Regions from separate parts of the Homo sapiens genome. Here region 1 is linked to region 2. The links come from fine-mapping of genetic effects on gene expression. A gene starts in region 2. The other region holds a variant in brackets. All regions are shown on one strand. Distances are between the middles of the regions.

Region 1 (8,000 bases), 38 kb after region 2:
TGCACCAGCCAGTACAGTTTTTTGTTTTGTTTTATTTTGGTTTTTTGAGACGGAATCTCGCTCTGTCGCCCAGGCTGGAGTGCAGTGGTGCCATCTCAGCTCACTGCAAGCTCCGCCTCCCGTGTTCATGCCATTCTCCTGCCTCAGCCTCCCTAGTAGCTGGGACTATAGGCGCCCGCCACCACACCCGGCTAATTTTTTTTTTTGTATTTTTAGTAGAGACGGGGTTTCACCGTGTTAGCCAGGATAGTCTCGATCTCCTGTCCTCATGATCCGCCCGTCTCAGCCTCCCATAGTGCTGGGATTACAGGCATGAGCCACCGCGCCCAGCCTTTTTTTTTTTTTTTTTTTTAATGTATGGGGGAAAAATGACTAGAAGGACAGAAACCAACATATAACATGATTGTGTGCATTTACTTATTTAACAAATAATTGAGCAATTTATTTCTGTATGATACTATTCTAAGCGTTTTAGAGTTAAGCAAACTCACAGTAAACTGTATTGCCCATGATAAAAACTGCAGTTACATAATTTAAAAGCAAGAATCGCAGCAATTCATCAGGCACAGTGACTCACGCCTGTAATCCCAACACTTTGGGAGGCCAAGGCAGGAAGATTCCTTGAGCCCAGGAGGTCAAGGCCAGCCTGGGCAACATAGTGAGAACTCATGTCCACAAAAATTACAAAATAGCCAGGCATGGTGGCAAGCACCTGTGGTCCCAGCTACTCAAGAGGCTGAAGTTGGAGGATCACTTGAGCCCAGGAGGTCAAGGCTGCAGTGAGCGATGATCGTGCCACTGCACTCCAGCCTGGGTGACAGAGCAAGAGACCCTGTCTCAAAATAAATAAAAATAAAAGCAAGAATTGCAGAAAGTATAAACCATGACCAACTCAAGAGAATAATCAATGAAAGAATAGGCAGAATGTCTTTCCAAAAAGCAGTTGAGAGATCCCCATCCTCCACATATGCACTAGTGCAGTGGGGATGTTGCCAGGCATGGCCGCCAGACCTCTAGATAGAACACTGAAGGTGAGTCTGCAGTAAAGCCATGGAATGTGCTAATTTTAGTTTAGGAATACCAAATTTTATTGACCGTTTTTAATTCAATAAGCAACCCTTGGCCATGTATAATCAGTTCATGACCCATCAGAAGATCCTCTGTGGTTCACTCATGGCCTTTGGACTATACTCTGAATCATGGCTTTAGAAGACATTTTTTTAGTATACTTAAATGGATTTTATAACTTGGTTGATGCCCAGATTACAGACTGTGAGGAGTATCTCCACATAACTTGTAACTGCTATATATGCAGTCAGCAATTCCAGTATTTAGCCTGATATTAATTTATATTTTTCCTCATAATCTGATAATACAGTGCTAGCAAGATAGATCACAAAGTGTAAATGAGTGTTTCTGGAGCATAGATGGGTACGCTCAAATCTTTGTATCTTGTTTTTTAATAGAGACGGGGTTTCGCTATGTTGCTCAGGCTGGTGTCGAACTCCTCGGCTCAAGCAATCCCCTTGCCTCAGCCTCCCAGAGTGCTGGGATTATACATGGGAGCCACCATGCCTAGCTTCCTTGTATCATTTTTTAAAATTCAAGTAAGAGAAAATGTCTGGCAATAGTTCATAAGCTATAAATGAAACCTAGTCTTAGGACCCAGCTTTATATTGCCTCAATCAAATATTAATATCTTTAGTTCAAAATTTGTATTTACAAAAAACTTTTGGTTCTTGGGGATACCGTTATTGCCTTCTCTGTTGCCATCCATATAATGTATGTTGTTTTTTTTTTCTCTCTCCCTCTGGGCTGCGTTTCATGCCAGATAAACTTCCAAACCAAACTGGGATGGCACCAGGCACAAATAACACTCTTCTTATCTTTTCCCCCATCTAGGTTACCCCTTTGCTTTGTTTTATCGGCATTACCTTTTCTACAAGGAGACCTACCTCATCCACCTCTTCCATACCTTTACAGGCCTCTCAATTGCTTATTTTAACTTTGGTGAGTAAACTAAATTAGCAGTGACACCGCAATTAGTGGGAACCTGGAAGGAACAGACTTGAACAAAATTTCCTTGAGAGAATCTAATAGGTAGGGAAGTTATAATGCTCCCACTTGCAAAGAGGGTTGTATGAAGAGGAACACAGCTTAACTTTTCCTTTTTTTCTTTTATGTACATTCTTCTGTCAGATAAAAACATTTTGAGGGTGGTTACCCTTGCCATACCTCATCAACAAAGAATCCTCAGTTTCTCTGTGCTGTGGATGTAACTGAATGACCGAGCCAAGCAGTCCCCACTTAGATTCATTCTTCACTTCAGACATTCAAAAATACAGTAACAAGCTGGGTGTGGTAGCCCGGAATTCAAGGCTGCAGTGAGCTATGATTGAGCTACTGCACTCAAGTCTGGACAACAGAGCAAGTCGCATCTCTAAAAAAACAAACAAAAAAAGAAAAGAAATAAAATAACACCCTAATAATCTTTTTTATTTTAATAAATAATTTCCATCCTCTCCTCCAAAACATGAGGTTATTCTGAAAAAAAAGATCCTGATGCCAACATTTTTTCTTTATATATTACGTTGTGATTGGAAGTCTCAGGACGGTGGGAGTGTAAAAACCAGGCTAAATTCTCTCTTCTTGCATCCAGGAAACCAGCTCTACCACTCCCTGCTGTGTATTGTGCTTCAGTTCCTCATCCTTCGACTAATGGGCCGCACCATCACTGCCGTCCTCACTACCTTTTGCTTCCAGATGGTAAACGTCTTTCCCTTAGCAGCTCAGGCTACAGCTGACAGCGGTTCAGGGGACAGGGGTAGGCAGGGGACTGTGGTATAGAAATTAGCAGACCTAATTTCTAACCCCTCTCCCAGCACTTAGCAGTATGACTTCAGGTAGGTGGCTTATCACAGGCCCAAGTGTTCCATCCACAGATTGTAATGGTAACTCTTTGCCTGCCTCAAGGAAGGGCCACCAGCTAACCCTTTGCATACTGTGCCATTAGGCTCTTTGGTTTAACCCACTATCCAGGAGCAGAGTCACTTCAAGGCAAGACAGAAAAGCAACTTAGAATGAGTTAAAGAACCTAAGCCTAGGCCAGGCAAAGTGGCTCACACCTGTAATCCCAGCACCTTGGGAGGCCAAGGCAGTCAGATTGCTTGAGCCCAGGAGTTTGAGACTAACCCGGGCAACATGGTGAAACCCCATCTCTACAAAAAAAATACAAAAATTAGCCCTCCAGCCTGGGCAACATGGTGAAACAAAAAAAATTAAAAATTAGCCGGGTGGGGTGGCATGCACCTGTGGTCCCAGCATCTAAATTCTCATCTCAGTTTAGCCCTCATTTTGCCAAGAAGCCTTGAGCAACGCTCTTCCCATTACAGGTTTTCAGCACCTCCATTTGTAGGAATTTATTAAGGCTTTTAATGATGGGATGAGGAGAAAGGAAAAAGGAAAGAGAACATTGAATTTCAGAGCAAGGAGAAGAAATAGTAGTGATGCTAGAATAAATACTTCTGCCTCTCCTAGGCCTACCTTCTGGCTGGATACTATTACACTGCCACCGGCAACTACGATATCAAGTGGACAATGCCACATTGTGTTCTGACTTTGAAGCTGATTGGTGAGTGATGGTCACTGCCTGCCTTCCTTACATGTAGGTCCCTCCCCCATCTCACTAAAAACTTCCTCGGCACCCCCCCTCCGCCCCCCGCCATACACTTCTGGCTGCACTCAGTCTACAGGCCACATCCTCAGTGTCCTCTCCCACCACCCTACCCATCCGTTCTCTCTCTGCTCAGGTTTGGCTGTTGACTACTTTGACGGAGGGAAAGATCAGGTAAGTACCCATTCATCGGCAGAGAGGTTCAAGACTTAATGAAAGGGAAGAAAAAAGTTGTTAACAAAAGACTGAACCCAAATTCCAGAGCGGAGCCTCTCCCTCATTCCCCAGCCTGTGCAATCTCCCTTTCAGATAGCACTGAGCAAGGATCAACAAATCTAATTTGCCCAGGATCCAGCTCTTGCACAAAGTCCAGAGATCAATGCCAGCAAGGCATTTGCTAAAGCAGCAACAGCCAGCTATGCACACACATACGCATTTCCACAAGAAGCAACTATTTGTCATCCCCCAAAGAGAAGGCTATTTGAAGAACCCCAGTCAGTGGGGCACACAGGTGGGGAACACTCAAAGTGGCTCTTGTGGGGAGATTCAAGGCTATCCTGAACCATGCATTCTCTTCTTGGCATAGAATTCCTTGTCCTCTGAGCAACAGAAATATGCCATACGTGGTGTTCCTTCCCTGCTGGAAGTTGCTGGTTTCTCCTACTTCTATGGGGCCTTCTTGGTAGGGCCCCAGTTCTCAATGAATCACTACATGAAGCTGGTGCAGGGAGAGCTGA[T/C]TGACATACCAGGAAAGATACCAAACAGGTAATTGCCCCTCTTGGTCCAGATGTTTGTGTAGGTATTTCACTCACTCTGAAGTGACTCTTCTGAAAGCTGCATTCTCCAGCATGACCCTGGCATAGAGACCTGAGTCATGCAGGCCCTGGACTGTTGTAACAGGCACTCTGTGCCAGGAGTGGGCCCTTTTTAGTTTAGGGTTCTTCCAGTTATCCATTCTAACACTAGTACAAACATAAAAATCCACATTTATGCCACAGGATTTTGCCTGAACCAGTCACATTTCTGCCTTTAAAGCCTATTTTCATGTATATATGAAATATATTTATGATTGATAGGTAGGTAGGCAGGTTGATAGGTAGGTAGGTAGATAGAGGCTGGGCACAGTGGTTTCACCTCTATAATCCCAGCACTTTGGGAGGCCGAGGTGGGAGGATCACTTGAGCCCGTGAGTTCTAGACCAGCCTGGCAACATAGAGAGACTCTGTCTCTACAAAAAAATACAAAAATTATCAGACATAGTGGCATGCATCTGTAGTCCAAGCTACATAGGAGGCTGAAGTGGGAGAATTGCTTGAGTCCAGGGGAGGTGGGTCAAGGCTGCAGTGAGCTTTGATCACACCACTGCACTCCATTCTGGGCAACATAGCAAAATCCTGTCTCAAAAATATTTATCAGTAGGAAATGCAGGAGGGCACAGTGGCTCATGCCTGTAATGCCAACGCTCTGGGAGGCCAAGGCAGGAGGATCACTGGAGGCCAGGAGTTCAAGACCAGCCTGGGCAACATAGTGAGACCCCATCTCTACAAAAAAAAATTATCCAGGCAAGGTGGTACATGCCTATAGTCCCAGCTACTCAGGTGGCCAAGGCAAGGGGATCGCTTGAGCCCAGGAGTTCAAGGCCACAGCGAGCAATGACTATGCCTCTGTACTCTAGCCGGAGTGGCAGAGCAAGGCCCTGACTCTAGAAAATAAAAATTAAAATGGTAAAAAAAAAAAAAAAAAAAAAGTTTAATTGCCAGAAGAATTCCTTCACTGAGAACTTGTCCATCCTGTGTTTCAGCATCAATTCAACCAAGAAATGAAGGAGCAGATTCAAAGTGGTTATTTTTATTATCTTACCTCCACTGGGTTTTCAGTCCCAATGGAGATTGTGAGACCTGGCAAGACCTTGAGATCAGTAGCATCCCTGAGGGGTAAACACAAGACTGGTCCACTGTCTGCTGCCCTGACTTTCCTACAACTCTTAAGAGGTTTGCAGTCCCCATTCCTCATAGCCAGCCATAGAAATCTTTCCCTGAAACAGGAAACACTTTGGGCAGCAGAGCTTCTCATCCCATTCCAGGTAGACAACCACACCCCTAAACACTCCTCTCCATAACTGAAGGTCAGAGGGTGAAGGGAATAGTCTCTGCTCTCTGTGACCAGGAACTTCACTCGTTCCTTTCCAGCATCATTCCTGCTCTCAAGCGCCTGAGTCTGGGCCTTTTCTACCTAGTGGGCTACACACTGCTCAGCCCCCACATCACAGAAGACTATCTCCTCACTGAAGACTATGACGTGAGTGTCTACTAAAGCAGCAGCAGCATGACTGCACCAGAGCTAGAAAATGGACAGGCAAGGATCCCTACAGATAGCAGAGAAGTAGGAAATATCATCTACAAGTGCATGTTGGTTTTGCTCTAGATCTGTGAGTTGTCAATGCCAGCCGTGCTGGGACATGTTCATCAGCCAGCACTGAACAACCTTCGCGGGCACAGGGCTGTGCCAGGTGCACATTTAGCACCCGTTGCCTTCTCTAGGAGCCGCTCCTAGCTTGCCTTATCACATCCACGTGACCCCTCAGAGCACAGCAGCTTCTGATTCTCCATCCTATTTTCTTCTCTTGACTGATACATTTGGGCACTTCTAGGGAATTCAGAAACCAAGGGAAGGGGGGAAGTGCTGGCTTTTGCTCCTGCCCAGCTGAAAGGCTTGAAAACAGTTCAGTAATTCTGGGCAGGTTTCTCTCCTTAAATTAAAATCCAATATGGGCCCCTCTGTACTTAACATTCCAAATGCTCATTCCAAACACTTTGCCAACGAAGGCAAACAGTAGAGAAGTTAAATACAGTGCTGCCCTTGAGGCTCTCCAAGGGAAAGGCGAATGAATATTCTCCAGGCCCTCTGCTTATTCCTCTCTGCCTATTGTGAAGGCAATCAGGCCAGACTATTGAGGGCATCTGGCAGCAGGACTCAGGCAGGTATGAAGTAGCCAGCCACAAGTGTGAAAAGGAAGAGTGCTGAGAGAAACTGCCTAGTCATGTGATATCCCTAATGCACTGTGCTTTCTTCCCTCAAGAACCACCCCTTCTGGTTCCGCTGCATGTACATGCTGATCTGGGGCAAGTTTGTGCTGTACAAATATGTCACCTGTTGGCTGGTCACAGTAAGTAGAAAAGTTGAAACAAGGTCCTATTTAGACAAGCCATGGGGGCCAGTATGGGGAGTGGCAAGAGCCCTAACTGAGCTATTCCCTCTCAGGAAGGAGTATGCATTTTGACGGGCCTGGGCTTCAATGGCTTTGAAGAAAAGGGCAAGGCAAAGTGGGATGCCTGTGCCAACATGAAGGTGTGGCTCTTTGAAACAAACCCCCGCTTCACTGGCACCATTGCCTCATTCAACATCAACACCAACGCCTGGGTGGCCCGGTGAGCTGCTGGTGGGGAGCCTGGACCCTGGTTCCTTCCTTCCACTGTCTTCCCAGATTGGAGGGCAGGGGTGTACCATGTCACCCCTATGCGTCTTTCCCATCTGGGCAGAACCCCCTGTCGCTCACACTGACTTTGACCCCCACCTATACCCCCCTCCCAAAAAAACCATTACTGTCATATTTGAAAAAAAGGCAAGATATAAAAGTGCGTTAAGACCTGGGTGTTACTCCAGCTCTGCCAATGGACTTATGTCCTCCACTGCCCTGTTTATCAACAGCTTTACTTGTTTGTCCCCACCACTAGAGTGTGGGCAGCTTGAGTAGAGTGTCTGGTTCACCACTGATCTCAGCATCAGCCTCAGTCACTGCTGCTGAACCAAGTGGCTCGTGCGCACACGGTCTCCAGCTCCGCCTTGGGTCTGCTTTCCATCTCTAAAAGTAATCAGTCAGCACTGCCTCCTGTACCCTCTGGGGGCTACACGTGGGAACCCACCAGCACTCCAATCCAATCCTCAGGGTGAGGACCCAGAGGCAGGTGGCGGGATGCAAGGACCAGTCAGTTTGAGGGTCGCCCCACCCACCCTTTTCTCCAGCTACATCTTCAAACGACTCAAGTTCCTTGGAAATAAAGAACTCTCTCAGGGTCTCTCGTTGCTATTCCTGGCCCTCTGGCACGGCCTGCACTCAGGATACCTGGTCTGCTTCCAGATGGAATTCCTCATTGTTATTGTGGAAAGACAGGTAGGCCTCCAGGGTGGGGGTGAAGGGGAATATAAGGGACAAGATGCTGATGAGCTCCTCCTCCCTCCCCAGGCTGCCAGGCTCATTCAAGAGAGCCCCACCCTGAGCAAGCTGGCCGCCATTACTGTCCTCCAGCCCTTCTACTATTTGGTGCAA
Region 2 (8,422 bases):
AAGAGAAATTTATGCTGAGTGGGGTGGCCAAATGTACGTATTTAGTACATTATAGGAGTGATGAGTTTTATGAAAGGAGAAACATACTCATGTGCAATTGAGCTTCATGCTTCTCCACGGGCCCCATGTTCAAAAAATGGTGGCATTAAGATGATCTAAGGTAGAGTTTTTGGCCCTCTGGCATCAAAAGGTGAAGCAGAGAACATGAAAACCCTCACTGCATTCTCTGTAGACTGGTCAGAACCACTTCATATTCAAGAGTCTCTTATCAGGCATAAAAGGAGGAGCAATATCAGACAGTTGGTTGATATCACTGGTAGAGTCTTTTGAAAGGGCTAGTTTCTGTTTAGCCCTTAGGTTAGAAAGCCTAAACCGGTTAGGGAGGGAGGGGTGAGCATAAGGAGGCGTGCCTGACCTCATCCCATCATGACCAAGAACTCAGTTTTCAAGGTTACTCTGGGGTCTGCTTTGCCAGGAGAGGGTCCATTAGGTCAGTTAGTGGGGGCTTCGAATTTTACTTTTAGTTTACAAGGGTATAGCCTAGTACTCCTTGGCTAAAAACTTGCACAGCATGTTATTATAATGAATATTGTGAGCAATAATAATACAATTGTAATAACTATTTGTGTGTATCTAAACACATCTAAACATAGAAAAGGTACAGTACAAATATGGTATAAAAGATTAAAAAGGCTGGGCACGGTGGCTCATGCCTATAATCCCAGCACTTTGGGAGACCAAGGCAGGTGGATCACCTGAGGTCGGGAGTTCAAGACAAGCCTGAACAACATGGAGAAACCGTCTCTACTAAAAATACAAAATTAGCCAGGCGTGGTGGCACAGGCCTGTAATCCCAGCTACTTGGGAGGCTGAGGCAGGAGAATCACTTGAACCCGGGAGGTGGAGGTTGCAGTGAGCTGAGATCGTGCCATTGCACTCCAGCCTGGGCAACAAGAGCAAAACTCCATCTCAATAAAAATTTAAAAAAATTTAAAAATTTAAAAATGGTACAGCCGTATAGGCCATTTACCTGAATGGAGCTTGCAGGACTCGCAGTTGTTCTGGGTTAGTCAGTGAGTGTGAAGAGTGTGAGAGTGAATGTGAAGGCCTAGGACACTGCCATACACTACCATATGTAATTGCCCTGTGGGCTTCTTCCTGCCCGCTGCACAGACAAAATCAATTCACTGAGACCATGGCATTGCATTAGAGAAAGATCTTAATTGATGCAAGGCTGACCATGCCACATGGTACATGAAGCTATTACTCAAATCAATCTCCCTGAAAATTTGGAGGCTAGGATTTTTCAAAGACAGTTTGGTGGGCAGGGGCCTACGGTATAAGTGCTGCTGCTTTGTTGGGGATGCAATCATAGAGGTATGGCAAATGATCCTCATGCCCTGACTCCACCTCTGGGTGGGGTCCATAGGACTGGCTGAGTCACGAGTCCAGCTGGGGTTTGCAGAAATGCCAAAATCTGAAAAGACATCCTAAAAGGTCAATCTTAAGTTCTACAATATGATGTTATCTAGAGGCGTAATTGGGGAAGTTACAAATCTGGTGACCTCCTGAACAACGGTTGGTAATCACTTAATTATGCCTACATTTTAGCGGAATTCAGGGCCCTTTCATAAGCCTAACCTTGCAGCCTTTCATTAGTTTTATAAAGGTGGCTTAGTTTGGGAAAGGGCTATTATCCCTGCTTTAAGTTTAACTATAAACTAAATTTCTCTCAAAGTCAGTTTGGTTTATGCCCAGGAATGACCAAAGATAGCTTGGAGGTTAAAAGCATGAGGGAGGCTGGGCACAGTGGCTCACACCTGTTAATCCCAGCACTTGGGGAGGCTGAGGCGGGCAGATCACTTGAGGTCAGGAGTTCAAGACCAGCCTGACCAACATGGCTAAACCCCATCTCTACTAAAAATACAAAAATTAGCTGGGCATGGTGGTGCATGCCTGTAATCCCAGCTTCTTGGGAGGCTGAGGCACAAGAATTGCTTGAACCTGGGAGGCAGAGGTTGCAGTGAGCTAAGACCACGTGCTTGCACTCCAGCTTGGGTGACAGAGAAAGACTCTCAAAAAAAGCAAGATGAAGTCAACTATATCAGATTTCTCTTACTGTCATAATTTTGTAAAGGCAGTTTAATTGGACTGTATAAACACTATATGCTTAGGCTTCACTGAAGTTATAAATATATATATATAATTTTCTTTTTTTTTTTTCGAGACGGAGTCTTGCTCTGTCACACAGGCTAGAGTACAATGGCGCGATCTCAGCTCACTGCAACCTCTGCCTCCTGGGTTTAGGCAATTCTCCTGCCTCAGCCTTCCAAGTAGCTGGGATTACAGGCACCCACCACCATGCTCGGCTAATTTTTGTATTTTTAGTAGAGTCAGGGTTTCACCACGTTGGCCAGGCTGGTTTCGAACTCCTGACCTCAGGTGATCCGCCCGCCTCAGCCTCTCAAAATACTGGGATTACAGGGGTAAGCCACCATGCCCAGCTTTTTTTTTTTTTTTTTCTGAGACGGAGTTTTGTTCTTGTTGCCCAGGCTGGAGTGCAATGGCATGGTCTCGGCTCGCCGCAACCTCCATGTCAGGCCTCTGAGCCCAAGCCAAGCCATCGCATCCCCTGTGACTTGCACATATACAACCAGATGGCCTGAAGTAACTGAAGATCCACAAAAGAAGTAAAAATAGCCTTAACTGATGACATTCCACCATTGTGATTTGTTCCTGCCCTACCCTAACTGATCAATGTACTTTGTAATCTCCCCCACCCTTAAGAAGGTACTTTGTAATCCCCCCACCCTTAAGAAGGTTCTTTGTAATTCTCCCCACCCTTGAGAATGTACTTTGTGAGATCCACCCCTGCCCACAAAACATTGCTCTTAACTTCACCGCCTATCCCAAAACCTATAAGAACTAATGATAATCCACCACCCTTTGCTGACTCTCTTTTCGGACTCAGCCCGCCTGCACCCAGGGAAATAAACAGCCTTGTTGCTCACACAGAGCCTGTCTGGTGGTCTCTTCACACGGACGCACATGAAACTCCATCTCCCGGGTTCAAGTGATTCTCGTGCCTCAGCCTCCCAAGTAGCTGGGATTACAGGAGCCGGCCATCACGCCTGGCTAATTTTTTTGTATTTTTAGTAGAGACAGGGTTCCACCATGTTGGCCAGGCTGGTCTCTAACTCATGACCTCAGGTGATCCACCCGTCTCAGCCTCCCAAATTGCTGGGATTACAGGCCTATATATATAATTTTTGTTTTTTTTTGCAAGACAGAGTCTCGCTCTGTCTTTCAGGTTGGAGCGCAGTGTCATGATCACGACTCACTACAGCCTCAACCTCCCAGGCTCAAGTGATCCTCCCACCTTAGCTTCCTGAGTAGCTGGGACTACAGGCATGTTCCACCATGCTCATCTAAATTTTATTTTATTTTTTTTGTAGAGACAGGGTCTATGTTGCCCAGGCTGGTCTCCAACTCCTGGGCTCAAGCAATCTTCCCACCTCAACCTCCCTAAGTACTAGGATTACAGGCATGAACCACTGTGCCCGGCCAATATAAGGCATGCAAAACTATACTAATTTTCCTTTCTGGATATATGCTGTATGTAAAGTATTAAAATAGGCATGGGATTGATAAATACCAAAGTCAGCAAAGTGGTGACCTCTGAGAAAGGAAGGAGGGAAATGCCCTCAGGAAGGGATATACCGGCTTTTCAAATGTATAGGTGATGTTTGTTTCTTAACCTGGAGAAGTTATATTATCCTCTACTTTTCCGTGTGAATGAAATATTTTGTTTTTTAAAATCTTGCCCAAAATGGGAGTAGGGGTAGGGAATTTGACAGACCTAGGTTTAAATTCTGTCTGCCGCTTACTTGTAAAGGAACTTACCCAGTTTCTTAATTTCTCCAAGCCTCTGTGTCTGTAAGAGGACATCATCATAATAAATATTCTATTGCGCAGCCAAAGCAAGTGAAATAATACGGATGAAAGTGCTTTATAAAGTGCAAGTGCTACAGAAGTATAAGCTGTAATTTTACAAGAATGCGCCACAAATTATTGTAACTAAGAGTTATTGCAAGAAACTCTTAGCATTCCTTTGTTACATACTCTCACAGAACCTTGACCCTTTCCTTCAGAGCACTTACCTTCTCTTGCAATAACACGTTAATTGATGCTATTATTTGTGCATCCTCCCACTCCGTGGCTCTGGGCTCCTGATTCTATTCCCAAGCCCAGCACAGTCCCTGGCATATGGTAAGTGCTCGACAGATTTTTTTTTTTTTTTTTTTGGCGTAATCTTAACAGGATTACCTGTAGGAAGTGAGAATGAAAAGCAGGGAGGGGAAACAGGACTCTTCTGTTTTACATTTCTATACTGTTATAACTTTTATCATAAACATGTATTACTCAGTGCAAAATTATTTGAATTTTTAATTAAAATAATAAGTGTTAAATAGGCATATCTTAATTTCATCGCCTCTAGGGGGAAGGTCATGTTTTACTACAGGAAACTGCATGGAAAAGGGATCCATGAAATAAAAGGAGCAGACAATGTCTGTTCCTGGGGCACTGGGCTTTCCGCTGAACCTCCGGGAGTGAAGGCGACGAGTCTAACAACCTAAGAATTTAAGAACGGGCCGGGAGGCGCCGTTAGGGGGCGCGCGAAAGGCGGCGCGGGCGTTCCCGCCTCCCCGTTACATGCCCCAGTAACCCCAGCGCCGGCGACCGGGAGTAACCTCGCGCGCGGGCGGCCCCCCCGCGTCCAGACTCTCGCCTGCTCCCGCCTCAGCCAATGGGAAGGCAGCGAACCGGCCGGCCGGACGGTCGCCCCGGAGGGCTCCTCCTGGGAGCATTTCGAACGGAGTTGAACTGTCGCCGGGCCACGGGCTCAGACCTTTCCAATGGCAGCTCTGGGTCCCGACGCCAAGCCCCGCCCAGCCCTGAGCCTCCCCGTGTGCATTCTCGGCAGGAGTCACCTTTGCCTTACAAACCTTCAGACCCGCCCTCTTCCTACCTTGCCGCGCTAGGCCCCGCCCTCTGCGCAGGTCGGCCAATAACGGGGTGAGCTGGCGCCGCGGGGCGGGCCTCCAGCCAATGCGCACGCCGTGGGCGGGCCCCGAGCCGGAATTGGGGGTGAAGCGATAGCGTTTTGCCCGCATTCGGGGCGCGCGGAGCTGGGGGGTCCCTGTGGGGCTCCCGGAGTTAAGATGGCGTCCTCAGCGGAGGGGGACGAGGGGACTGTGGTGGCGCTGGCGGGGGTTCTGCAGTCGGGTTTCCAGGAGCTGAGCCTTAACAAGTTGGCGACGTCCCTGGGCGCGTCAGAACAGGCGCTGCGGCTGATCATCTCCATCTTCCTGGGTAAGGACCCTCCTGCCTCCCTCCGCCCCTCGCGGAGTCCCCGGGGAGTAGGGGAGGAATGGGGACAGGACCTCCCTCTCTTCCCGGAGCCACCCGGGAGGGCTGTGCCGGGTGCGGGTGTGAATCCTGAAGCACACCAACAGCTACTGAGGGAAGACAGAAGTCCTGTCTCGAGTCTGGGGCGCTGTGCCCTCTGAACCTCTTCATCTTTCTCTTCAACCCCTGCCATGCCCTCTGGCCTCTCAGTCGGGCCCCCGCCCTCTTGTGCCAGGCTCTACCCTTGCTCCCACGACCTGTCTTTATTTGTCGCTCTGTTGAGTTCCACTGTCTGGCCATGTGTCCTGCTCTGTCATTAATAACCACCCCGCACACGCGCGCATCTCATCGGTAGGCATAGGGCCCCTAACTTTAGCCCTTTCGGCCTTTTCAGCCCCATATTCCATATTTCATATTCTGAGCGCCTGTTTTGCTTATTGCCAGCTTATATTATACTTTCGTCTCTTTTCTGTCCCAGTCCTACTATTTTCTTTTTATACCATGTTGCTTTTTTTATTTTCCAAGCCACCTACCTGTCATTTACCCTGGAATATCATTTTAATGCTGGACTTGGGAAACAGGACTAACAACCTCCTTAAAATCGATCCATACTATTCCAAGCGTTTATTACACGTGTGGTTCAAAGGATGTGGTGTATCTGAATTTATGCCACAACAAGCTGTATTACAACTGGTTTATAGGCTTTTTTACCGCATCCTCACTCCATGGTTTAATACATGGAGGTAGCATAGTACAATGGAAAAAAGTATGGGTTTTGAAGGCAAACAAATCAGATCCAGCCTTGTTGCTGCTCACAAACTGAAGGACCCTACGCAGGCCGCAAAACCCTCTGGGCCTAATTTCCTTATCTATGAAATGAGGACAACAGTGCCTACCACATAGGATTGCCATAAAGTCCTGTAGAAGGGCCAAGATTGGGAAGTACCTGTACATATATATACATAAAATTTAAGCAGTTGGAACGTTTTATGAAGGTTATAGAACTTTAGGAGCGGGTGAGTGGGAAGGATTAAGCAAAAGCTGTAAGTGGTGATAAGGAAACAGGACTGGGGCTAGAGCAGAGGGTTAGAGGTCTGAACCATGAGAAGTTTGAGATAAAGTTGGGCAGGTGTGGAAAGCCTTAAATGCCAGAGAGAAGTTTGGCGTTTATCCAGTATTCAGTAGAAACACTGATATATAATATCACCAGAGGGTGTTAACCCAATCTAGATAATGGGATAGGCATTAATTCATATTTAAACAACCTTGCCTAATAGCATTGTTACTTTCCTATTACATATCAAACCAAGATCTTCCTTTCTTCCAAATAAAGATCACCTTTTTCTTCCTCTGTGGAATCGTAAGATTTTAAAGATGGAATGGAACTGGGGTTGTGCAGTTTGCTCAGTGTCACCCAGACATCATCCAAATTTATCAGCACCCTAGTCTAGGCTTATTTGCACTACACCAGCTTTGAACTTCCTACTCTTTCATCCTTGTTTCTGACCCAGTTATTTTTGACATTGTAATTAGCAATTAGTGTTTACATTTGACAGGACGCAGCGGCTTATGCTTATAATCGTAACACTTTGGGAGGCCAAGGTGGGAGGAACGCTTGAGGCCAGCCTGGGCAACATTTTATTTGTCTCTACAAAAAATTAGGCCAGGCGCAGGGGCACATGCCTGTAATCCTGGCATTTTGGGAGGCCAAGGTGGGCAGATCGCTTGAGGTCAGGAGTTTGAGACCAGCCTGGCCAACATGGTGAAACCCCATCTCTCCTAAAAGTATAAAAATTAGCTGGGCATGGTGGTGGGCACCTGTAATCCCAGCTACTTGGGAGGCTGAGGCAGGAGAATCACTTGAACCCTGGAGGTGAAGGTTGTAGTGAGCCAAGTTAGCTCTACTGCACTCCAGCCTGGGTGACAGAGCAAGACTCTGTCTCCAAAAAAAAAAAAAAAATTAATAAAAAAATGAGCTGGGCGTGGTGGCTCATGCCATGCCTGTGGTCCCAGCTACTCCCGAGATTGAGGTGGGAGGATCACTTGGGCCTGGAAGTTTGAGGCTACAGTGAGCCGTGGCACCACTGCACTCCAGCCTGAAGGATAGAGCAAGACCCTGTCTCAAAAAAAAAAAAAAATTGTATTACATTCATTAGTTAGGAAACTGTTGGTTTCTCAACAATAAATTCAGAATGTAACACAAGTAGCAACCAGTTATAAGGGGCAATCTGTTAAATGGAGTTAGGGCTGGAATTAGGACTTGGAATTCAACTTTTGTTTGTTGACATAAAGAATTCAACTTTTGTTTGTTGACATAATCACATATTGCCTGTGCACTCCTGCTGGGCTATTGCTGTGTACTGTCACGGGGCATACAGATGACTAGGAAATTGTTTTCTCCATATCCCACTCCTCTTCTCTCATCTTCTCTCATTACCACCAATCATCAAAGTAATAAACACTTGGTGTAATGCATCTACCACACTCCCGAGCCCCCTTGCTCATTCTACCATTTCCCACACCCTGCCTTCCTATCTCACATACCCTGTTGCCTTCAGTAATTCATAGTATTTCTCATTTTTAGATCAACTTGGGGCTTCAACTTGCCTCCTATCAGGTATAGCTCATCATGTGGACGGGTAGGATTGTATTCCTAGTAGGCACAGTTTAAATACATACATATAAATATAAATTGATTAAGCTTGATGTGTGCGTGGTAGGAGTGCATTTTGGTTGTAAATATGTTTCCCTTACAAAGGTTATTACCATTTCTGTGTATTGTAACCTAGAAACCAGTAGCCTTTCAGCAGTGGAGTTCCTGGTTCTTGAACCCAGCTCTCTCAGGGAACTGGGATACTGGAGGAAATCCTTGCTGGAGGTACCAAGAAAGCCTGTAGTCCAAAATGATTTCTGGTTCACTTTCCACTGATTAGATTAATTCAGGTTAAAAACACCTCCCTAAATGCAAATACCCCAAGGGAAGAGTTAGGTATATCATTCACATTTTCAAGTG

Evidence for each region. PIP is the estimated chance that this variant, and not a neighbour inherited with it, causes the effect.
Region 1: its variant is fine-mapped to the expression of LPCAT3 in whole blood (TOPMed, PIP above 0.99).

Annotation. Positions count from the first base shown.
Region 1 is chr12:6,977,442-6,985,441 of GRCh38, reverse strand. EMG1 (EMG1 N1-specific pseudouridine methyltransferase) reads right to left here. Exons shown (of 6, transcript NM_006331.8): 6 at 5,506-8,000. LPCAT3 (lysophosphatidylcholine acyltransferase 3) reads left to right here. Exons shown (of 13, transcript NM_005768.6): 2 at 1,903-2,010; 3 at 2,660-2,766; 4 at 3,538-3,631; 5 at 3,810-3,847; 6 at 4,260-4,438; 7 at 5,863-5,971; 8 at 6,753-6,839; 9 at 6,935-7,101; 10 at 7,697-7,844; 11 at 7,917-8,000. Among named protein-coding and RNA genes, the nearest start is that of EMG1, 11 kb to the right of the region's middle. The variant T/C (reference allele first, on the strand shown) is at 4,411.
Region 2 is chr12:7,015,225-7,023,646 of GRCh38, reverse strand. It overlaps LPCAT3 (lysophosphatidylcholine acyltransferase 3), which reads left to right and starts at 5,171. Exons shown (of 13, transcript NM_005768.6): 1 at 5,171-5,373. The coding sequence starts at 5,223. RefSeq lists a silencer at 4,561-4,820.